Regions from separate parts of the Homo sapiens genome. Here regions 2 and 3 are each linked to region 1. Evidence: fine-mapped expression QTL. A gene starts in region 1. Each other region holds a variant in brackets. All regions are shown on one strand. Distances are between the middles of the regions. Region 1 holds the start of TESPA1 (thymocyte expressed, positive selection associated 1). Region 2 has its middle 88 kb from the start of DCD. Region 3 overlaps TESPA1 (thymocyte expressed, positive selection associated 1).

Region 1 (8,462 bases):
ATAAATCCTTCTCCACAATCTTTCAAGAGTTCTGGAATCTGGGTTCAGCCAAGTGGAGTAAGATATAATTCTTGTTCTGAGGATGCTATAGTTAAAAGCAGAAATTGTAGTAGATAGGATTGAGGTTAGACAGGAGAAATATCCTCCACTGGTTTAAGATGAGGGAGTTAAGAGCTGTGAAATGAGTATCTTCCAACAAAAATTATTATCAGAGGCAGTAACTGTAGCAGCGGCAGAAAACCTGTAGAGGTATGTCATAATTATGACTCGAAGAATATCGCCTATTTCTAGTCTCTGTTTTCCCAGGGAAGCAGGTGGGGATTCACTACACATTGACACGGGCAAGTCAAAGGTAGGTAGTCATAATAACTGAAATGTATAGAGTACTGCATATTTATCCATAAAACTTTCCTGTAAACTGCTTAACTTAATCCTGACAACCACTTTAGAGCTGATTATGGTTACCTGACCCTCACAGAGATACGTTATTTGTCCAAGGCCACATCCCTGTAGTGCTGAGATTTAAACTCAAGTTGGTCTGACTCCATGTTATATAGTTTTTCCACTGACATTAGAATAAGAAAATGGCCCAATGTCACCATCCAATGTAATTTGGGATTAAAAAAAAAGGAGAAGTTATTTTAGTAAATTCTCCATTTTGCATCTATGTAAGCTCTCCATCTTATAGTCTAGTAGAGAAGAAGCACCATAAACACAATGTAATTTATATTTGGTTCTGTGACAGTCTTAGTGCAGGAAGTGTTGCTTTGTTTGTGTTATTAGAATAATTTCCTTTCTGACTCCAGCTAGGTGATTATGAAGCAGTTTAGCCTTCCTCAGGCTTACAGAGTGGTTTTTTTGGCAAGGGCCCACCTAACTTCTAGTTGGGAGGAGAGAATCTGCCTGGAATTCCGCATTACTTTCAGGTTGTTGTGGCATTCAGAATATTTCATAACGGTTTGGGGCACCACAGAGCAATGAGAGCTGATACCATCACCGCCCTGTGGTGGGGCCCCGCCCGGTACATGGCTGATGTGGCCTTGAATTTCTGGGGCCTGTCTGGGGAGTCTTGAGGAAAGAGCTGGGATAGCTGGGCTGGTCATGGGCACTCAGAGGGCTTGGGAAAGTGGATAATTATCATTAGTAGACATATTTTAATATTTTAGCAACTATTAGCCTACCAGTTTGCACCTGACAAATATCAGCTCTGCTTACAGATACTTCACCATGGGGCAATTTTCAAGGGGCTCAGTAAGGATGACCAATGCTTCTTTTTCTTTAAAGTTCAGAGTGTTATTTAGAAATTAAAGAAAAGGAAAACTGTAGAAAGAGTTTGGGCCTTGGAATCAGAGTAAGCCTAATTTGGAATCATAGTTCTGTCTGCTTTCTGCATATTTGTCCTTGGTAACACTATCTTTTCTTCTATACCTAAGTTTCTTCTTTTTCTTTTTCTTTTGTCTTGCTGTGTTACTCAGGCTGGTCTTGAACACCTGGCCTCAAGCAATCCTCCCACCTTGGCCTCCCAAAGTGCTGGGATTATAGGTGTGAGCCACCACACCTAGTCTATACCTAATTTTCTTCATAAAATAGATACTGTGCCAAACTAGTTGGGTGATTGGCAGTTGTAATCAGGTAACACATATTAAGTCCCTGATGTATAAAGGTGGTGCTTAATAAGTGATAGATATGATTATGATTATGAATCTCCCCTCAGTCTAAGATGTTCACTAAAGTTGAAACATCTTGAGGAATAAGGAAGGAAAGAAGGAAGGAAGAAGGTGAGAATTGCAGGGTACAGTTGACAGTATAAAATCAAGATGGTGAAAAAGATTTTTTAAATCTGTGTTAAGCAGAGATAAAAAGTAAGCAATGAAAAGTCTTTCTTTCCTGGGGCCTGTCCTAGGGTGGGGGGAGGGGGGAGAGATAGCATTAGGAGATGTACCTAATGTAACTGACGAGTTAACGGGTGCAGCACACCAACATGGCACATGTATACATATGTAACAAACCTGCACATTGTGCACGTGTACCCTAGAACTTAAAGTATAATATATTAAAAAAAAAAAGTCTTTCTTTCTTACCTAATTCCCAAAGGGACCAGAGAGATTACCTAATCCTGTTCACTCATTTTGTAGTTGAGGAAACTGAAGAGAGAGAGAAAGGAGGGAGAAAGAGAGAGAGAGAGGGAGGGAGAAGCAGGCTTGCCTGGAGTCACAAAGAATATTAGTGGTTTTAAATGGGAACCAAACTCACAAGTTCTGAGTTCCAGATGCATGCTTTCTTCCTTTATATCATACAGCCTTCCTCCTGCCACACTTGGTTTCCAAGGCCCAGTCCCAGGTTTGCCTTTAGTGCTCTAGGGGACATGTATGAGACAGACCTCTCTTCTCTTCTGTCTGTTTTGTACCTATGCCCCAAGCAGTGCCTGTGAGTTGAGACTGAGAGTGAGAACCAGTGTGGGAGGAGAGAAGAAGGAAATGGGGTTTCCATGATGTGGCCCATAAGACCTTCTGCATCCACAGCCAAGATATACATCATTACCATCGCAGAGCTGCGGGAAATCCCAGAGTAGCTAACATTTCTCTGTTCATGAACTGGACAAACTCCACCTCAACCCAGGTGGATTGTCCCCCATTTGACATACCCCAATCTGCAACAAATTCTCACATTCCTTCATAGAACTGTCTTCTAGCTCCTAACCCTCTTCCATGTCACTCAGGTTGGAAGATCATCAGAACAAGAATTTCCCTGAGTATAATATTTGAGCATTCTGAGACTTCTATTGTCTAAGGAGCAGTTCAATCTGTTCGGGGAAAAGGAGAGATGTTACTTGGTAAATAACAGAAAGAAAAAATGCCCATTAGTCAATAGAACTCCTATTCCCCTCCCTTTTCATACTCTTTCTCCCACAAATAAGCGTAGCTGAATAAATACTGAAAGAAGACCATCTAAGACCTTTTTCCTCTCCTTCCCTTTCTTCCTTACTTCCACTTTTAGGATATGAATTTTAAGAAAGGCTTGTATAATTGCTACAGGAAATATTAAAGTTGTGGATTTGGAAAAAAAATTAATCGCTTGTTCTCAATGTAGGGAGACATCAAATATCTTCATTTGAATGGGCAATAAAGACATCAAGAATAAGAAACAGCAGTTTATCTGAGCTGATTTATAGATGGCTTCATCAAGAGAAAGTAGGGAGAATGAGCAGATTTCTCAACCATTGTGTTAGCTCTGTGAATTCGTATCTTTAATTCTTCAGTTTCATTTCCTTGGTAATAAGCTCTGTCCTGCATATATTCATTTTTCTTCTTTCCTGCTTTTCTTTTTCAATATCTACACACTCTCTTCTCCTCGTCCCTCTACTTATTTGACTGAACTCTTTTCTCAATCTGAAATCTGTGTTTAGGCCATTCTGCATCAGGCCTGGGTGTTGTAAGGCACACAGTACTGTGGGTACTGGAATATCCACTTTGGTCTTGTGCCTTAGGTGGAAAAGAGAACAGTTGTCAGTTTGCAGGTGGAAATAAACGTGTGATCTTTTCCCCTTACTGTAGCCCAGAAGGAATCTTGTAAGTCACAGCATTGGCTGAGACGAGACCTCCATACTAGAATCCAAATCAAACATTGAACTGAAAATGACGGTTGGGGCTTCATGTTCACTACATAATGCTGAATCGCAGGGTTCCATCTTAATTTTCAAAAAACCCAAGAGTTATGAGAACATGTTGGTAGCGTGGTTGTAAATGGTTTCTAAACACCCTGGGGTGCATGCGAATAACTCAGATGTTAAATTGCTTTCTATCCCTTCTGCTATATCTTCAGCTTGTTATTTCTGATAATAGTCCAAGTAGAGACAGACAATAAACCTGACTTCCCTTCTTCCTACTAACACTTCATGCTGCAAGACAATATTGTGAGATCTTTATCTCTAATCACTCAGCTGAACAACTATTGAGTCTGATACTTGGACACACAAGTTGAAGGTTCCTACCTCCAACCTCCCATCCTAGGTACTGCCCTGCACCATCTAGAAAGTCTCCTTACCTCTCTACTCAGGACCATTTGTGGTATACAGAGTCACTAGTACTTCCCTGGATATCTCCTGTAAATGCTCACAGTCTTGTCAAATCACTTCTGTGGAACTCTCCTTTCTTGTCCTTGCCCTGCCCTGGGGACCCACCCTTTTTCTTCCACCCACTGGTGAGCTTAGTGGCACAGAAGGGGCATGGGAAAACCCCAGGGTGGAGGATCTTTCCACTCCTCCATCTACCCCAAAACTCATGTAGGTGGTGATATGCTCTGCCTGCTACCACTGGGGCAAGGGGTGTTGGAGGAGCATGAAGCCCCCAATATTATGTAGGTCACTGAGAAGGCAACACATCCATCTATCTATCTTTGAGATGTGAACCCTGAAATCTGGTCCTGATGGTGGCTATCCATCTATCTTGAGCCTCCCGGTGAATTTGACCTTACCTCACTCAAGTGTGTACATCCTCCCTCGTAGCTGACCTCAATATATCTTGCTGCAGTTTATCTCAACAAGTTTCTTCTACAGCTTCTGAAGAAAGAGGTCATACCCACAGAAAGCAAAGTTGATTTCAGCCAGGTACTCTCAATGGTTGGAGCTATGGACACTAGAGTAGGGCCTGAAATGAAACCGGGAAACTTCTTCCTTGAGAACTTTTCGATGTTATAATCAGATGGAAATTGCAGCAACAATGAGTTCAGCAAGACACAGAGAAGAACTTTGCAGGTGAGAAAGGTGAAAAAAAATTCCTAAAATGTTATTCAAGTCATCAAAGAGACCCAAGTTTTGAGAATCTAGAAAGATTACCTCTCTGATAATAAAGAGAAAACAAACAAACGAAAGCAAAAGGGCACCCAGCATCGTTCTCCTAGGCATAATGATGGATGCTTTTAAGGTTGAAGTAAGAGTGGTGGGAGATTTTCTCTTGATTTTCCCTTGACTTGACAGCCTGATTTTTCTCTGACATGTTTCCTTCTTTCTCCTAGCATCACCCTAAATCAGTACAGCCTTGAAACTGAGATAAAGGCTGTGCTTACCTGTCTGCTGGTAGAAAGCTGAGTTTGAGGCAAAGCAGTTGTCGAAGCTGGGCCGAGGCCTTCACAGGTGTGGGCACAGAGGTGAAGCAAGTGAGAAAGTATCATGTTGTAGATTATGCCTTTCTCCCTGAACTCATTCAACTGCTGTTGCCTGCTCAAAAGGGGAAGCGGAAATGAGAACACACCACACACACACACATCCACACATGTAGATGCAGTCCCCGCCTCCTGGCCCAGCCACATCCTTTGCTCCGGCTCAGGAGACTGAGCGAAGGACAAACCATCCGTAGACACGGTGCTCACAACTAGGAAGACCTTCCTGCCCCAGAGCTGCCTCTGTCTTTCCAGAAAAACAGGAGATCTTTTCCTATTAAGGCAAAGGTACAGTCCATTTAAAGAGGTGTGTGCAGGAGTCTTCCTACCATATAACTAGAATTCCACTGCTGCAGATAAATCCTTCTGTCCTCAGGAGAGCTGTCTGAAAATGGGAAAGCTCTCTCTCATAAATGATCTGGCGTTTATCTCAGAGAAGAAGTTTCCAGTCGTATCACACACTTGAGAGGGCTCTGAGCCAGTCGCTCTGTGTTGATAACTTTCATACTCTGGTAAATTCCCCCGAAGCTTGTTTTTGAATACTGACTACTTTTTTTTTCTGTTAGTTTCTTAACTTTGTTTTATGTTCAAACCACTTCAAAGTTTTTGTTTTTGTAGTAAATGACTGCTTTCCCCAACGTTTTCAAAGCTGAACTTTTAAAATCGGTTACACCCTGAAGATGTCTTCAGTTTATTGGTTTTCAGTTTGGAAAAGGCTTGTTGAACTCTAAAAGGTTTCTCCCAGGCCTCAATCACTTTCACCCACCGGGAGCATCCAGCACTGCTAACTATCCCTCCTCGCTTCTCCAGTATCTCTGAACACTCTTCTCCGTAGGATGCTGCTGCATTTTGGATATCTTCTTTCTGTCTCTCTCCTGATTCTACTGTTTCCTTCTTTAAATCATTTATTTATGAATGTATATCACAATATTTATTCTACAAGGCACTCCTCTAATGTGTTAATTGTGACTGATTTTCACATGTTCATTACCTTCTTTCTGATTTTTTGGCTATAGGTATAGTTAGATTTTTTTTTTACCATGTTTCTAAATTCCATTTCCAATCATCAATGGGACAACTCCATTGAGTATCCATAGTATAGCTATAATATGGTAGAAATAATCCTAAATAAAATTCTTGCTTGGCAAATTAAGTTCTCAAAACATTATTTTCTTCAAGTATAATGTGAGGAAAATAACAATTCTCTCTGTTTCTCACTCAACCCTTCTCCCACGCTATTCCTTTTACGTAGGCATGAAAATATCTAACATATTTTCTCAGGACATAGTAGATGCTAAATATGTGCTTCTCTGAGAATTAGCTTCACAGTCAACAAGTAAAATGCTAAATCCAACACGCCCTAATTCTCTTTATTTACTATTCTTTTCCGTACAAATTAACTATAAAAGCTGAACTAATGGAAACTTAACAACTCTTTTAAATCCTAAGTTTCTAGAATTCAATGTTTTCCTTAACAGTTGTTTTCCAATATGTTTGGGAAATGGAGAATATAACTTCGGTAGGGAGTTTGGAAATATGTGAGAGAGATTTAATTTTCAAAGAAATGGGAAGCTGATACTGGTATTTAGTACCTGAGGGCCAATGATGATAAGTGCTTTTGAAGGGATGGGACTCTTCAGTATAAGGAATAATTGTCCTGGCCCAAATGTCAACATTTTGTTAACATTGATAGTTTGATGGTTAGGAGAGCAGGCTTTAGAGTGAAGCTCTGGCATCAAGTAGCTCTGTAGTCTTGGATACGTTAACATCTCTAGGTCTCAGTTTGTTAGCTGCTAAATGGGGATAACCTTACAGGAGTGGTTGTAGAGCTATAAGAATAAAGGAATACAGAGTATTCAGTCCAGCGCCTACCTTACAGCAAATGCTCAAGAAATTGCAGCTATTTTTAAGACTCTTGAAATATAATAGTTTCTTTTAACTTTTATTTTAAGTTCAGTGGTACATGTGCAAGTTTGTTACATAGGTAAACTCCTGTCATAGGGGTTTGTTGTACAGATTATTTCATCACCCAGGTATTAAGCCTAGTACCCAATAGGTATTTGTTTTGATCCTCTCCCTCCTTCCACCCTCTACCCTCCCATAGGCCCCAGTGTGTGTTGTTTCCCTCTATGTGTCCATGTGTTCTCATCATTTAGCTCCCACTTATAGGTGAGAACATGCGGTATTTGGTTTTCTGTTCCTGTGTTAGTTTGCTAAGGATAATGGCCTCCAGCTCCATCCATGTTGCTGCAAAGGACATGATCTCATTCTTTTTTATGGCTGCATAGTATTCCATGGTGTATATGTGCCACATTTTCTTTATCCAGTCTATCATCACTGGGCATTTGGGTTGATTCCATGTCTTTGCTATTGTGAATAGTGTTGCAGCAAACATACATGTGCTCGTGTCTTTATAACAGAATGATTTATATTCCTCCAGGTATATACTCGGTAATGGGATTGCTGAGTCTAAAGATATTTCTGTTTTTAGGTCTTTGAGCAATCGCCACATTGTCTTCCACAAGGGTTGAACTAATTTACACTCCCGCCAACAGTGTATAAACATTCCTTTTCCTCTGCCACCTCGCCAACATCTTTTATTTTTTGACTTTTTAATAATAGCCATTCTGAGTAGTGTGAGATGGTATCTCATTGTGGTTTTGATTTGCATGAAATATAATATTTTCAGTTTCTGCAGAATACTATGTCTATCTGTCAAAATTACCTCACTCATTAAAGATACCATTTCACAAGCAATTGCTAGAGATTTTTTTGTTAATAAAAAAGATGTATTAATTTTTGGTTTTTATTTATATTTATTCTTAATTTTTATGAGTACATATGTAGGTTTATATGTTTATAGTATTTGTGATTTATTTTTTGAAAGAAATATTTTTCTCTTCTACAAGCAGCTTCTGAAAGACAAAGATGAAGACTATATGATTCCTAGGAGGAGGAGGCGGCCCAGGGTATTCCTCTGTTTATCTTCTTTCTCAGTTGTATAGTCTTTCTCTTTCTTTCTTTGTTTCTTTCCTTCTTTCCCTTCCTTCCTTCCATTCCTTTTCCTTCCTTCCTTCCTTCCTTCCTTCTTTCCTTCCTTCCCTCCTTTCCTCCTTCCCCTTTCTCTTTTTTCCCTCTCACCTGCCCTTCCCACCCTTTGAAAACATTGTCTCTATATCTTTGGCACCATGAACTTCTCTGAGCATATATTCCAGGTGCTTCATGAAAACAAAATGACTTGTTCTTTTTATACGAGACGCAGTAGTTCAGGGTTTCTGAAGGTTTTTTTGTGAGCTTGTTCATTT
Region 2 (8,462 bases), 250 kb before region 1:
CTCCAGCTTTGTGCTTTTCTCACTGCTCCATTATTTTTCTGCATGTTCAGTGGGTGGACTGATGTTATCCAACTAGGTGTGCTGATGTTACAGCTGTGGTAAATAAATAAGTAGCAGATTATTCCTCATTTTGCTATTCCCTTATGGATTGGGTCAGACCCATGGACTTATTTCACAGCAGAAATAAACCACTTGCTTGCAGAGGCTCTGGGGTACTCATTAAAATTTTATACCCCACATCATCCCCAATCCTCAGGGCAAGTGGAACCTAAAAATTTAGACAGAAAAAGAATTTTGGGAAAATTTTGTCAAGATAGTGGACTTAAATGGCCAGAAGCATTATCTCTGGCCCTTATAAAAATCTCTAACACTTCAAATAGGAGACAGGGATTAGCCCCTTTTAAAATAGTGTTCAGTCACTCCTTACCTACTGACACCTCTAAACCTTCTCTTCTTGGGCTGAATGAACACCATGGGGATTTTTATTAAAAATTTTACTTTACGTTCTGGGATACATGTGCAGAACGTGCAGGTTTGTTACATAGGTATACATGTGCCATGGTGGTTTGCTGCGCCTATCAACCCATCATCTAGGTTTTAAACCCTGCATGCATTAGGTATTTGTCCTAATGCTCTCCCTCCCCTTGTCCCCCACCCCCCGACAGGACCCGGCATGTGTTTTTCCCCTCCCTGTGTCCATGTGATCTCATCTTTCAACTCCCATTTATGAGTGAGAACATGTGGTATTTGATTTTCTGTTCCTGTATTAGTTTGCTGAGGATGATGGCTTCCAGCTCCACCCATGTCCCTGCAAAGGACATGATCTCATTCCTTTTTATGGATGCATAGTATTCCGTGATGTATATGTGCCACATTTTCTTTATCCAGTCTATCATCAATCGGCATTTGGGTGGGTTCTGTGTCTTTACTATTATAAATAGTGCCACAATAAACATACGTGTGCATGTCTCTTTATAGTAGAATGATTTATATTTCTTTGGGTGTATACCCAATAATAGGATTGCTGGGTCAAATGATATTTCTCGTTCTAGATCCTTGAGGAATGGCCACACCGTCTTCCACAATGGTTGAACTAATTTACACTCCCACCAACAGTGTAAAAGCGTTCCTATTTCTCCACAGCCTCACCAGCATCTATTGTTTCTTGACTTTTTAATTGAAAGGTGATTAAAGATTGCCTGAACTTATCTCTCTCATACTCCCTTTGATCTTTCGCTGTGACTCTTCTTTTGAACTGTGCTTTGCTTTTACTAATTCTTGCTATTTTTCTAGACGGTCGGGCACAAACCCTTTGCACCAGTCTTTTAAATCCTGACAACATTAGTCAGTCTAATTTTGGTTATGCCAATATCTAGATGATGCAAAAGAACCTGAAATTATTTTTGTTTCTGCCAGTATGAGCACCTGGTGGATTCAGTCTAGAAGATGGATGTATGACAAGATATGGCATCCAGAACCAGAGAAACAAAGTCACATTGCCTCTCTTATGGTAAGTCAACTGGACACAGAAAAGCCACCATGGAAGCTCAAAACTGTCTTTTGCTTAGATAAAATTACTAGAAAGAAAATTTTCCTTCTGCATTGAAAACAGGAATGATGCTGGACCCTTGCTAGGTGACATACTAGGCAATATTGCAATCAGACCTTATAGTTTGATTCCACAGATGGCATTCTTGCACTTCTTACACAGACCATAGGTGGTCCTGATGCTGACTCATGAAATCAATATTTATCAAATCACCAGATGTTATGGATGGCTCACAAGCCAGCCCTGGTGTGCAACTTGGGGTAGCTTACCTGTCAGATACTAAAGATTACATATGGATAGACCCAAAGTCTGGACTGATTTGGCTAGGTGACAAAACCAAGCCCTATAACAGCCAAAACTAAAGGTCTTTTATATAAAATATTTCACAACCTGTTTTGCTCCCACAGATTGACAGGGAGACATGATAGCTGCAGATGTGGAAATGCCAATAACAAAGAAGACAAGGCACAGCAAACTTCAGGCTGAGGCGCCACAGGCTTCACCCTGACCCTATCTGTAAATAACAGCGGCCTTTTAATATTGCGTGGTAACAAGATATACAAGTGGTTCCCACCTAGATACTCAGGGTGCTGTGGACTCAGTTATCTGACATCCTCTGTTACTAGGTACTCCACTTTAAATGGCAGCCAAATTACAAATGGGCCTTTTTGTTCATAAAGTGGTGCCACACAGAGGTAATGAATGTGACTTTGTAAAAAACCCACCTATATATCACAAATCTATGTTCTTTTCAGTCCTCAGAACTTTTCCCCTGGCATTTGGAACTTAAGAAAATGAAAGGGCAGTTTAAAATCTTTCCATGGCAATAGAACAAGACTTCAGTATCACTACCCAAGCCTTGGGAGCACTCCAGTCAGAAGTCAACAGTCCAGCTTCTGCTGTACTTTAGAACTGCTGCAGCCTGAATGTGCTGACAGCCCAACAGGGAGGAGCTTGTGCAGCTATTGGTGACAAATGCTGTTTCTACATAAACCGCTCAGGGCAAGTAGAGACTGATCTGCACCTCTTGAAGGTCAAGGTAAAATATTATCCATCAGGTAAACAAGGCTAAACTGTTCTATTGGTCTGACCTATTCCTGGGAATGGGAGACTGGTTTAATGGGGTGTGGGGAAGTGTGCTTAGATATGTTCTTTTCTCATTTTAATCTATGTTCTTTTCTTCCTTTTCAGATCTCTTACTACCCAGCTACTAAACCAACTTCTCTCTCCAGAGCCACTAACTTAGGATTTTTTTTTTTTTTTTGAGACAGAGTCTCACTCTGTCACCCAGGCTGGAGTGCAGTGGTGTGATCTTGGCTCACTGCAACTTCCGCCTCCCAGGTTCAAGCAATTCTCTGCCTCAGCCTTCCAAGTAGCTGGAATTACAGGTGCCCGCCTATAATCCATACCCAGCTAATTTTTGTATTTTTAGTAGAGACGGGGTTTCACCATCTTGGCCAGGCTGGTCTTGAACTCCTGACCTCATGATCCACCTACCTTGGCCTCCCAAAGTGCTGGGATTATAGGCATGAGCCACCGCGCCCGGCCTAACTCAGCTTTTTATGTGTGAAACTTCTAGGGGAGTTCCAGACAGGGAGAATGAATAAGCTCCTTGGTATAATGTATATTTTGAATTAAAAGACTTTATAAATCAACAGGCCTCAGAAGAAACTTATCCCCTAACTTCAAAAAGATCAGATAGGCCCATCAAGAACAATTGCCTTTTCTTCCCTTCCCTGTTATCTCACTATTTCAGGAAAGAAGAGGAAGAATATAACCATACCAGAACCAACCATTTTACAAAATAATACCTGTCTCTCAGGTTCTTTTAACTTCCAAAGAAAACCATTTACAAGTCAATTTCTGTTCTCACCTTCCATTCATTCTCCTAAGTACCTATTCATTTTTCCTTAGTAATTATTTAATGCCCCTCAACCAGAATTACCTCTATATTCCCCATCTTCCCCCTCCCCTCTGAAAGAGGTTATAGAAGTGTCTGGGCCCTGTTGGGAAATTGGGTAATCACTCTATGATTCTTCTCGAGCACATGGTTAAATAAATTTGTATGCTTTTTGTCCTATTAATCTGCCTTACTGTAAATTGATTTTTTTCAGCAAACCCTCTGAGGGCAAGGGGAAAGCTCCTCCAATGCCCATACACAAGTGAAGAAGATCAAGAAGAATTTATCACAAACCTGCCTTGCTATACAAGTGTCTGATGTACAAAAGACTGAAGTGAAATACTTGTTAGCACCAATAAAATATAACTCAGTGACAAATTTTCTAAAAAGAACTTTGTATCTAGGATTGATAGGCTTGGAAAAATCTTACAAACTTTTCTTCAACATCTGAAAGTGTTTTTCAGTCTATAGTAATTGTCAGGCCTCTGAGCCTAAGCTAAGCCATCATAACCCCTGTGACCTGCACGGATACATCCAGATGACCTGAAGCAACTGAAGAACCACAAAAGAAGTGAAATAGTCAATTCCTGCCTTAACTGATGACATTCTACCACTGTGATTTGTTCCTGTCCCACCCTAACTGATCAATTGAGCTTGTGACATTCCTTCTCCTGGACAATGAGTCTCAGGAGCTCCCCACCGAGCACCTTGTGACCCCCACCCCTACCCTCAAGAGAAAACCCCTTTAACTGTAATTTTCCACTACCTACCCAAATCCTATAAAACTGGCCCACCCCATCTCCCTTTGCTGACTCCTTTTTCAGACTCAGTCTGCCTGCACCCAGGGAATCAAAAAGCTTTATTGCTCACACAAAGCCTGTTTGGCCGTCTCTTCACACAGACGTGTGTAACAGTAATAATATTATTTTATTTTTTTGAGACAGGGTTTCACTCTGTTGTGCTGGCTGGAGTACAGGGGTGTGATCATGGTTCACTGCAGCCTCAACCTCCCTGGGC[T/G]CTAGTGATCCTCCCACCTCAGCTTCCTGAGTAGCTGGGACCACAGATGTGCACCACCACACCCAGCTATTTCTTGGTAGAGATGTTTTTTTGCCATGTTGCCCAGGCTGGTCTTGAACTTCTAGGCTCCAGTGATCCACTTGCTTTGATCTCCCAGTGTTGGGATTACAGGCATGAGCCACCATGCCCAGCCCTTAGTAATAATTTTAAAAAGTCTTTTAGTTTGAAGTTTTTGATAGCCTGAGAACTGAGGCAGCATCTTCTTAAATTATTCTTGTAAAATCTGTGGGTTTGAAGTTTGATTAATGAGAACACAATGTGTTTTTCCAATGCTTCATATAGTGTCCCTTGTTCACATTCCTGTTTTATTCTTACTGCTTGTGTTCTTTATTATGGCTGGATTGGTACTAGAAAAAACAAACCTTGTTTGTGTATGAGTGTGGATGTGTCTGACAAGTACTTGAAATGTGACTTACATGATTTTGCTGTTTTTCTTTTTCATGAAATATTAAGGTGGGAAAGTTGACATTTTGCTTTTAATTCAACATAATATGATGTGAAGAATTTCCAAATAAGATTGTTTTCATGTAAGACTCATGGCCTAGATGCAATTAAAATAATAAAATAAAAATAAAATATGATTATTAAAAACTATTTTGCTTAATGTCAAACATGCTGGTATACTAAACAATTCTACAAATATTAATTTTGATTAGTCTTCCTCTTAATTTTATTATTTAAAATATATTATCTTTTTGCTCAAAAGGATATAATATTCTTTCTAAATTCAAGTAGCCAATGTACTCTTTTCATATTTGTATTAACCAACAATCAATTTATTGAATGATTTAAAAGTTCTTAAGAACTATTTTTATACATAAATGAGTGGATTTTGTAATCATCATTAATCCTTGCTGTGTCAGGGGTCCCGAAGACTACCATTAGATTTGATGATTCTCTGGAAGGACCCACGGAATTCAGAAAGGCTGTTATAGTTACACAGTTATAGTTTATTACAGGAAAAGAAAACAGATTAAAACCAGCAAACGAAAAGGTGCGTAGGCAGAATCCAGGATAAACCAAGAATGAGCTTTCAGTTGTCTTCTGCTGGTGGAGTTGAATGGATAGTGCTTAATTCTCCCAGCAGTAATGTGTGATATCATTTTTTTCTTTTTCTTTTTTTAAAAATTTTATTTTTCCATAGGTTATTGGGGTACAGGTGGTGTTTGGTGATATGAGTAATTTCTTTAGTGGTGATTTGTGAGATTTTGATGCATCCATCACCCAAGCAGTGAATGGCACCCTATTTGTAGTCTTTTATCCCTCACTCTCCTCCTACTCTTCCCCCCAAGTCCCCAAAGTCCAGTGTATCATTCTTATGCCTTTGCATCCTCATAGCTTATCTGCCACATAACAGTGAGAACATACAATGTTTGGTTTTCCATTCCCGAGTTACTTCACTTAGAATAATACTCTCCAATCTCATCCAGGTCACTGTGAATGCAATTAATTCATTCCTTTTATGGCTGAGTAGTATTCTATCTATCTATCTATCTATCTATCTATCTATCTATCTATCTATCTATCTATCTATCTATCTATCTATCATCTATCACAGTTTCTTTATCCACTCATTGACTGGTGGGAATTTAGGCTGGTTCCATATTTCCTCAACTGTGAATTGTGCTACTATAAACAAGCAAGTGCAAGTATCTTTTCCGTATAATGGCTTCTTTTCCTCTAGCTAGATACCCAGTAGTGGGATTGCTGGATCAAATGGTAGTTCTACTTTTAGTTCTTTAAGGAATCTCCACACTGTTTTCCATAGTGGTTGTGCTATTTTACATTCCCACCAGCAGTGTAGAAGTGTTCCCTGATCACCTCATCCACTCCAACATCTACTGTTTTTTGATTTTTTGATTATGGCCAGTCTTGCAGGAGTAAGGTGGTATCACATTGTGGTTTTGATTTGCATTTCCCTGATCATTAGTGATGTTGAGCTTTTTTTAATATGTTTGTTGGCCACTTGTATATCTTTTTTTGAGAACTGTCTATTCATGTCGTTAGCCCACTTTTTGATGGGATTGTTTGTTTTTTTCTTTCTGATTTGTTTGAGTTCATTGTAGATTCTGGTTATTAGTCCTTTGTCAGATGTATAGATTGTAAAGATTTTCTCCCACTCTGTGGGTTGTCTGTTTACTCTGCTGACTGTTCCTTTTGCCATGCAAAATCTCTTTGGTTTAATTAAGTCCCAGCTATTTATCTTTGTTTTTATTGCATTTGCTTTTGGGTTCTTGGTCATGAAATCCTTGCCTAAGCCAATGTCTAGAAGGGTTTTACCAAGGTTATCTTCTAGAATTTTTATAGTTTTGGGTCTTAGATTTAAGTCCTTAATCCATCTTGAGGTGATTATTGTATAAGGAGAGAGATGAGGATCCAGTTTCATTCTCTTACATGTGGCTAGCCAATTTTCCCATCACCATTTGTTGAAAAGGGTGTCCTTTCCCCACGTTATGTTTTTGTTTGCTTTGTTGAAGATCAGTTAGCTGTATTTGGGTTTATTTCTGAATTCTCTATTCTGTTCCATTTTTCTATGTGCCTATTTTTATACCAATACCATGCTGTTTTTGTGACTATGGCCTTATAATATAATTTGCAATCAGGCAGTGTGATGCCTCCAGATTTGTTCTTTTTGCTTAGTCTTGCTTTGGCTATGTGGGCTCTTTTTTGGTTTCATATGAATTTTAGAATTTTTTTTTCTAATTCTGTGAAGAATGATGGTGGCATTTTGATGGGGATTGCATTGAATTTGTAGATTGCTTTTGGTAGTATGGTCATTTTCACAATACTGATTCTACCCATCCATGAGCATGGTTTGTGTTTCCATTTGTTTGTGTCATCTATGATTTCTTTCGGCAGTGTTTTGTAGTTTTCCTCGTAGAGGTCTTTCAACTCCTCGGTTAGGTATATTACTAAGTATTTGTTTTAATTTTTTTTGCAGCTATTGTAAAAGGGGTTGAGTTCTTGATTTGATTCTCTGCTTGGTCGTTGTTGGTGTATAGAAGAGCTACTGATTAGTGTACATTAATCTTGTATCCAGAAATTTTGCTGAATTATTGTATCAGTTCTTGGAGCCTTCTGGAGGAGTCTTTAGGGTTTTCGAGGTAAACAATCATATCATCAGCGAACAGTGACAGTTTGAATTCCTCTTTACTAATTGGATGCCCTTTATTTCTTTCTGTTGTCTGATTGCTCTGGCTAGGACTTACAGTACTATGGTGAAGAGGAATAGTGAGAGTGGGCATCCTTGTCTTGTTCCAGTTCTCAGAGGGAATGCTTTCAACTTTTCCCATTCACTATTATGTTGGCTGTGGGTTTGTCATAGATGGCTTTTATTACATTGAGGTATGCCCCTTGTATGCTGATTTTGCTCAGAGTTTTAATTAAAAGGGATGCTGGATTTTGTCAAATGCCTTTTCTGCATCTATTGAGATGATCATGTGATTTTTGTTTTTAATTCTACTTATGTGGTATATCACATTTATTGACTTGCATATGTTAAATCATCCCTGCATCCCTGGTATGAAGCCACTTGATCATGGCGGATTATCTTTTTGATATGTTGTTGGATTCTATTAGCTAATATTTTGTTAAGGATTTTAACATTTATGTTCATCAAGGATATCGGTCTGTAGTTTTCTTTTTTGGTTATGTCATTTCCTGGTTTTGGTATTAGGTTGATGCTAGCTTCATAGAATGAATTAAGGCAGGTTCCCTCTTTTTCTAACTTGTGGAATAGTGTCAAAAGAATTGGTACCAATTGGTCTTTGAATATCTGGTAGAATTCTGTTATGAATCTGTCTGGTCCTGGACTTTTCTCTGTTGGTGATTTTAAATTACCATTTCAATCTTGCTGCTTATTCTTGGTCTGTCCAGGGTATCTAATTCTTCCTGATTTAAGCTAGGAGGGTTGTATTTTTTCAGAAATTTATCCAT
Region 3 (8,462 bases), 35 kb before region 1:
CCATTAGTCTGTTTTGCTTTTCCTGAAGATTGAGGATGGTAAGGGGTATGAAGTTTCCACTGAATACCAAGAGCCTGAGAAACTGCTTGGGTGATTTGACTAGCAAAGGCCTGTCTGTTATTGGACTGTATAGAGGTGGGAAGGCCAAATCATGGAATTATGTCTGACAGAAGGGAAGAAATGAACACGGTGGCCTTCTCAGACCCTGTGGGAAAGGCCTCTACCCATCCAGTGAAAGTGTCTACCCAGACCAAAAGGTATTTTAGTTTCCTGACTTGGGGCATGTGAGTAAAATTAATTTGCCAGTCCTGGGCAGGGGCAAATCCCTGAGCTTGATGTGTAGGGAAGGGAGGGGGCCTGAACAATCCCTGAGGAGTAGCAGAATAGCAGATGGAACACTAAGAAGTGATTTCCTTGAGGATAGATTTCCATGATGGAAAGGAAATGAGAGGTTCTAAGAGATGGGCTAGCGGTTTGCAACCTACATGGAAGAGGCTATGAAATGACAAAAGAATAGAATGGGCCTGTGAGGCTGAAAGGGGATATTTTCCTTGGTCTAAGGACCATTTTCCTTGTGTGGGAAGAGATTGATAGGTGGAAGTTTCAGTGGGGGAGTAGGTGGGAGTGACCGATGAGAAGGAGAAAAACTGGCAGTTAGGGAGAGAAATTGGAATGCTAGCTGCTTCTTTAGCTATCTTATCAGCATAAGTGTTGCCCTGAGTGATGGGATCTGATGCCTTTTGATGGCCCTTGCAGTGAATGACTCCAGCTTCCTTTGGAAGTATAGCGGCCTTGAGAAGACTATTTGTTAAAGAGGCATTAATGATGGAGGACCCTTGTGTAGTGAAGAAACCTCTTTTTGCCCATATAACAGCATGGTGGTTCAGGATATGGACGGCATATTTAGAGTCAGTATAAATATTGATGTGTACTCCTTTTGCAAGAGTGAGGGCTCAAGTTAAGGCAATGAGTTCGGCTTGCTGAGAGGTAGTGGAGGGGGGAAGAAAGTATATGCATCAGATGTGAGGAAGAAAATAGATTTTGGAAGTTATGACAACTGCAGAGAGTGAGTTGAGCATAGTTTGTGATTTTGAGGACCTCTAAAAGTATTAAAGCAGTGGTACCTGCCACATGCAGACATGAGGGCTAGGCTAAAACAGTAACGTCAAGTTGTTTGGACAGAAAGGCTAAAGGGCGTGGTCCCAGCTCTTGTGTAAGAACTCCAACTGCACAGCCCTGCACTTCAGCTGTGTGTAGTGGAAAGGGAGTGATAAGTTAGGGAGAGCTAGTGTGGGAGCTGTTTTTTAAGGAATGGATAGGGGAGTGGAGAAAGGATTTAGGATCTATGGGGTCAGCTAGGTTTACCTAGAACAGAATAATGGGTTGTGGAGGGAGGTATTGAGGATAGGAGAGTATATGAGGTTTCACACCACAGGGTGGATACGCAAAACAATTTGGTTGATAAGGCACAGATCCTGACGTAACCTGTAAGACTTGTCCAGTTTCTGGACAGGTAAAATGGGGGAATTGTAAAGAGGGTTTATAGGCTTTAAAAGGGCATGCTGTAACAGGCAAGTGATAACAAACTTTAATCCTTTTAAAGTTTGCTGTGGGATGGGGTATTGGCATTGAGTGGGATAAGGGTTATTAGGTTTTAATGGGATAGTAATGGGTATGTGACCAGTTGCCAGGGAGGGAGTAGAGGTGTCCCATACCTGTGGATTAAGGTAGGGAGATACAAGGGGAGGATTTGAAGGAGGCTTTGAACTGGGGAAAAGGGTGGCAATGAGGTGTGGCTGTAGCCTAGTCAGGGAAGCAGATAATCTAGTTAAAATGTCTTGGCCTAATAAGGGAGCTGGGCAGGTGGAGATAACTAAAAAGGAGTGCATAAAAGAATATTGTCCAAGTTGGCACCAGAGTTGGGGAGTTTTGAGAGGTTTAGAAGCCTGGCTGTCAATACGCACAACAGTTATGGAGGCAAAGGAAACAGGCCCTTTAAAAGCAGGTAATGTGCAGTGGGTTGTCTCCATATTGATTAAGAAGAGGAAGGACTTACCCTCCACTGTAAGAGTTACCGAAAGCATCTGTGATGGTCCAGAAGGCTTCTGAGGCAAGTGGGCAGTGTCAGTCTTCAGCCACTGAGCCAAGAAGATCTGGGAAGGAGTCAGTCAGAGAGCCTTGGGCCAGAGTTCCAGGGGCTCTGGGAGTGGCTGCCAGGTGAGTTGGACAGTCCGATTTCCAGTGGGGTCCTGCACATATGGGACACAGCTTAGGAGGAATCCCAGGCTGTGGGCATTCCTTGGCCTAGTGGCCAGATTTCCAGCACTTGAAACAAGATACTGGGGGAGGAGGTCCTGAAGAAATGCCTGACTGCTGTGGCTTAGGCGTTTTGAAGTTCTTGTGTGCTGGAGATGTGGCTGGAGTTTCTCTCACAGCAGCGGCAAGTAATTGCAACTCTTCTGTATTATTGTACACCTTGAAGACAAGGTTAATTAAGACCTGTGTGGGGTTTAAGGGCCAAAATCTAATTTTTGGAGCTTTATTTAATGTTGGGAATGAATTGCGTAATAAAATGCATATTGAGAATAAGACAGCCTTCTGACCTTTCAGGGTCTAGGGCTGTGAAGCGTCTCAGAGTTGCTGCCAAATAAGTCATGAACTGGGGTGGGTTTTTACATTTGATGAAAAAGAGCCTAAACACTAACTGATTTGGGAGAGGTCGGATAAAGAAAAAGGAGCATTAACCTTGACTATGCCTTTAGCTCCAGCCACCGATTTAAGAGGAAATTGCTGGGCAGGTGGCGGGGGCTAGTCGGGGAAAGAAACTGTAAGTCGGACTGGGTGTGAGAAGGGGAGGTGATAGAAGGATTATAGGGTGGGGGAGCAGAGCCTGAGGAAGAATTGGAGCCTGATTCAGCCTGGTGGGGAGCGACCTGAGGAGGAGCAGTCTGGGGATGAGGGGAGAGGTCAGATGGGTCTGTAGAAAAGGAATATTGAAAAGACTCAGTGATGCTTGGGGTTAGGACTGAGGGGAAGGGTGGAAGGGAAAGAAGGAGGATTTGGGATGAGTCACATTGGGAAAAGAGACTAGAGAGGGACCCATGTGTAAAAGAATGCATGGACCTCAGGCACCTCAGACCGTTTGCCCATTGTACGACAAGAATTATCTAGATCTTGTAGGATGGAAAAATTGAAAGTGCCTTTTTCTGGCTATTTGGAACCATTGTTGAGTTTGTATTGGGGTTAAGCAGCATTGCAGAAGAAAATAAGGCATTTAGGTTTCAGGTCAGGTGTGAGTTGAAGAGGTTTTAAGTTCTTGAGAACACAGGCTAAGGGAGAAGAAGGAGGAATGGAGGGTGGAAGGTTGCCTATAGTGAAGGAGGCAAGCCCAGAGAAAAGAGAGGGTAGAGACACGGAGAGAAGGGGTGGGGGGGTGTTTGCACCCTAGGAAACTGGTGTTTGTCACTAAGGGTGAAGGATCAAGGCAGGCATCCCTGCGGTGATCAGGCATCTCTGAAACGTGGGTGAATAATCAAGCAGGTGTCCCTGCAGTGATTAAACACCAAGGGAAATCTGTCTTCCCAAGTCCCTGACCGGCACCGGAGTTTTGGGTTCATGGATAAAACACATCTCCTCTGTCTCTACCAGAAAAGGAAAGGAACTGAAATTAAGAGAAGGGAGAGAGTGAAGGATGGTGCCAAGATTGAAAGGAGAAAGAGGTTGAGGGATAGTGAGAGAGGTTGGAGAAGGCAGTAAAAGGAGGCCGCTTACCCAATTTAAAATTGGTGAGATGTTCCTTGGGCTGGTTCATCGGAGGACCAGAGGTCGTAGGTGGATCTTTCTCATGGAGTAAAGAGCAGGAGGACAGGGGATTGATCTCCCCAGGGAAGTCCCCCGATCGAAGTCACAGCACCAAATGTCACGGGCGTCCGTGTGAAGAGACAACCAAACAGGCTTTGTGTGAGCAATAAAGCTTTTTAATCACCTGGGTGCAGGCAGGCTGAGTCCAAAAAGAGAGTCAGCAAAGGGAGATAGGGGTGGGGCTGTTTTATAGGATTTAGGTAGGTAGTGGAAAATTACAGTCAAAGGGGATTATTCTCTGGCAGGCAGGGGTGGGGGTCACAAGGTGCTCAGTGGGGGAGCTTCTGAGCCAGAAGAAGGAATTTCACAAAGTAATGTCATCTGTTAAGGCAGCAACAGGCCATTTTCACTTCTTTTGTGATTCTCCACTTGCTTCAGGCCATCTGGATGTATACATGCAGGTCACAGGGGATATGATGGCTTAGCTTGGGCTCAGAGGCCTGACAGTTTGGATCTGTGTCCTCACCCAAATCTCATGTCAAACTGTAATCCCCATTGTTGGAGGTGGGGCCTGGTGGGTGGTGATTGGATTACTGGGTAGAGTTTTCATTAATCGTTTAGCACCATCTCCCCTTGGTACTGTATAATGAGTGAGTTCTTACAAGATCTGGTCATTTAAAAGTGTTAGCACCTCCCCTTTCCTTTGTTCCTCCTGCTCATACCATGTAAGATGCCTGCTCCCACTTTGCTTTCCACCATGAGTTAAAGCTCCCTGAGGCCTCCCCAGAAACTGATGTTGCCATGCTTCCTGTACAGCCTGCGGAACTGTGAGCCAATTAAACCTCTTTTCTGTATAAATTACCCAGTCTCAGGTATTTATTTATAGCAGTGTGAGAATGGACTAATACAGTTCTTTAAATGAAATATTGTCAGATATTTCTGTTCTCTTGTGACAAGATAGCCTTAACTTTCCCCTCAGCTTGACCAAATAGGTTTCTTCCTGACTTCAGGCCCTTGACCTCCCTTAAGAATATTTGCTTTAGAAAATTTGCTGTAGTTCTTTCTATTTCTTGAGATCTAAATCTTCTTCCAGCCTCTTCCCAGTTTTACAACTCAGGAATATCTTTCTCTAGGACCTGAGAACCACCTCTTTGAAATGTTAACATCAAGGAAGATAGTTCCCCTGTCTCCTGGTTTCTGTGGGTGGGAAGGGTAGGAAACTTGGAGTGGGGGGGCTTTTTCCAAATTGTGAAACTATCTTTTATCATGAAATAGGAGAAAGTTCATTTTGTTCTTTTGGTATGGGGAATTAGTAAACACAGATGGTTTAAAAATTTTTCCACCCTAGCCCTTTTGTCTCTGCCTCACTACGTATCAGACTCAGTTTGTGCCTTCTCCCCTAATGCTGGCAATAGCACCAGAACAAAATCAACTTCTG[C/T]TTATCATGTCTGGTGTAATTTTTTCCTTTAAACTTTTGGTTATGATTTCCCTCAAATTCCCTCAAGTCCCTCTCTTCCTGTTTTTTTTTTTTTTTTCTTTTGTCTCACAATTTATTAGGCAGCCAAATAATATACTTCTGGAAATGCGTGCATCTTACTTCTCCCATTCTATTAATATTAATATTTTCTCAGGGGAGAAATGTGTCCAAGATGCTCTGAAACCACATACTGCCTAAGAGAGCACTGCATGTGCTCAAGCCCTGTTTATTGACAAAACATTTAACTTCCAAAGCAAACTACAGCTGTTAGTTAACTTTAAAAACATGCCATGATTTAAAAAAAATATTTGTATTGTTTTCTGCCAACAGAAATAGCATTTTTTCCCCCCACAATGGCTAGGAGAAGAGACTCTGAATCCTACTTATCTCTTTTTCTATAAAGATGCAAAATTTTGGGTAGAGAAAGAAACTGGATTTAAGGAGGAGTCTCCAAGTTGATTTCTTCAAAGGAGGTCTCAAGAAGAAAAATAGGACTCCAGTGTTGTAGAAGATTTTCTGGAATTTAGTTAGGAATACAGGGATGAACAGAGGTGCAGAGGGAATCCTAGTGTGAGATGTACCATGCTTTTAGAGCCAGAAAGTGAGGTGTCCTTCCTCTCTTCACTTGGGCCTTTTGAAAGTATTAGAAAAAAACTTGTCCCCTAAACTTGATCCTGAAGTCTCCTAACTGCCCTTGGCAATGTCAAAGCTTGGGAGAAAATTAAGGCTTTGTTCAGTTTACTATCATCCACATTATATATTTTAATACACACATAGTAGAGAAACCAGTGTACAGAGAAATGAAGAGATGTGCCTAAGGTCTTTGTGCATGCAGCTTGTGGCAGCATTAGGATGTGGATTCCAAATCGCTCAGTCTGGTCTTCCTCCCCATGTACCATGCTGCCTTTCTCCTGCAGAGTTTGGGGGTTTGGAGGACCAAGGAGTAGGGGCTGGATGTTGAGGGCAGTGCAGTTTCCTGCAAGAGGTGGCTTTTAGTTTCTTCTTTGAAGCCAATTCTGTCAGACCACATGCTGTTGTGGTGGTGGAGAAAGCCTGCAATGGGAATAAAAAAGATACATATCATGCATTTTTTAAACAACTTTGGGTACTGAGGTTGGTAGGAACTTTCATACCTCAGCTGTGGAAATGTTTCTCAGTATTATAAGTGACATTTAAAGTTATTAGCAGCAGCAGCAAAGAGTCATGTGACTTGGGGTTTCTGCTCTTTTCATCATGAGGTGAGATTCCTGCAAGAGTTTACCTCTTACTGTTTAATACTTATAAAGGCATACATTTATACCTTTATTTTTTTGTATGGATTGCTGAACACTGTTGGAGAATATCACTAAACCACTATCAATTCATGTTCTGCACCTTGAAATGAGCCTAACATTATTCACCTATTCAACTAGCAATGCATTTTCTATTAATAAGTATTTCTCTTGTTTTTTCTACATAGTAGAATTCTCAAATTTTTACCATTCCTTTCCTGACTCACACTTTTTAGTAATGACCCCACAGGAAAAAGAGAGAAAGAAATAGGCAGAATTTTTCTTGACTTCCTCTCCAGATGACCAATATAACCATATTGACACTTAAAATTTTTTTCCATTTTTTTTTCCCTTTAATCTCAGAGAAATATCTGTCACACTACTTTATGGCTAGCTACACCCTCCAAAAGTGCCTTGAATCTCATCTCATCCCAGTTCTCAGTGACTTCACACCATTAACATCCCTGATATAGTTTGGCTCTGTGTCCCCACCCAAATATCATGTTGAATTGTGATCCTGAATGTTGGAGGTGGGGCCTCATGGGAGGTGATTGGATCACAGAAGCAGATTTCCCCCTTGCTGTTCTCATGACAGCGAGTGAATTCTCATGAGATCTGGTTGTTTAAAAGTGTGTAGCTCTTCCCCCTTCTCTCTCTCTCCTGCTGACCATGTGAATATGTGCTTGCTTCCCCTTCCCCTTCTGCCATGAATGAAAGTTCCTGAGGTCTCCCTAGCCATGCCTCCTGCACAGCCTGTGGAACCATGAGCCAATTAAACCTCTTTTCTTTACCCACTCTCAGCTAGGTCCTTACAGCAATGTGAGAAGAGACTCATACAATTCCTTCCCTCCTAAACCATAGCCTTTCCCATTCTATTGATTCTTTCCTTCCAGGGAAATATTTACTGTATGCTTAAACTTTCACCATCCTAGAAAAAAATTATTTACCTACTTTCTTTTCAACATTTCTTATTCACTTTTCATATTAATATTTTAAAGCCTTGTCACCCAAATAAAAATATTCTTATCAAGGTTAGTAATTGTTATCTAGTCACAAATACAATGGTATCTTTGCATTTTCCTTCCTATTGGATATTTTATGGTAAATGTTACTGAAGACTACACCCTCCTTCTTGAGAGAAACATCACTTGGTTTCTATTTGCAACCTTTTTCTAATCAATATTGCTCCTTTATATACGTTGTTCCTTGATAAAACTTTAAATATTAATATTTCTAAGTTGTTTTTTTTTTTTTACTTCAGATTCTGATTCTGCATACTTTCTTGGGTGAACTATCTTTCCTCATGCCGTCACCTATTATAAGTAAGCCTTGAACTCCAAAAAGCTCAATTCCTAGATTCCTTTATCCAAACTGCCTTATGGACTGTTGTTTGAGTTTGCCCTCCAAAATTCATGTTGGAATTTAATTGCCATCGTGATAGTATCAAGAGGTGAGGTCTTAGGGAAAAAATTAGGATTAGATAAACTCATCAGGGTGAGGCCCCATGATGGGAATCTTGGCTATATAAGAAGAGGAAGGGAGACCTGAGATGGCATGCTCTTGCTTTTTTACCATGTGATATCCTCTGCCATGTTATGATGCAGAAAGGAGGCCCTCACCGGATGTGGTCCCTCAACCTTGGACTTCCCAGCTCCCAGAACTGTAGTAAATAAATTTCTTTTATAAAGTAAAATACCTAGTTTGTAATGTTCTATTATAGCAACAGAAACCAATGAAGACATGAACCTCTTTATCACAGTATTTTAGAAGTACCTTACACTCACCATGTTCAGATATGAACTCATCAGCTTTTTCTAAATAGTCAAACAAGATGACTAGATACTCTTTCAGTACAGTGTTAATCTTGACTTTCTATTTACACTGCTATTTTATAGTTTTGCAAGAGCAGAGAT

What was found. PIP is the estimated chance that this variant, and not a neighbour inherited with it, causes the effect. A credible set is the group of variants that fine-mapping cannot tell apart.
Region 2: its variant is the best candidate, but not a certain one, in a credible set for the expression of TESPA1 in blood mononuclear cells (TOPMed, PIP 0.66).
Region 3: its variant is the best candidate, but not a certain one, in a credible set for the expression of TESPA1 in CD4 T cells (CEDAR, PIP 0.76).

The regions. Positions count from the first base shown.
Region 1 is chr12:54,979,521-54,987,982 of GRCh38, forward strand. It overlaps TESPA1 (thymocyte expressed, positive selection associated 1), which reads right to left and starts at 5,242. Exons shown (of 11, transcript NM_001136030.3): 1 at 5,065-5,242. LOC107984515 (a long non-coding RNA gene) reads left to right here and starts at 5,331. Exons shown (of 2, transcript XR_001749161.2): 1 at 5,331-5,445.
Region 2 is chr12:54,732,279-54,740,740 of GRCh38, forward strand. No RefSeq gene overlaps it. Among named protein-coding and RNA genes, the nearest start is that of DCD, 88 kb to the left of the region's middle. The variant T/G (reference allele first, on the strand shown) is at 4,467.
Region 3 is chr12:54,944,060-54,952,521 of GRCh38, forward strand. TESPA1 (thymocyte expressed, positive selection associated 1) reads right to left here. Exons shown (of 11, transcript NM_001136030.3): 11 at 3,956-6,331. It also overlaps the pseudogene LOC105369778. Among named protein-coding and RNA genes, the nearest start is that of TESPA1, 36 kb to the right of the region's middle. The variant C/T (reference allele first, on the strand shown) is at 5,240.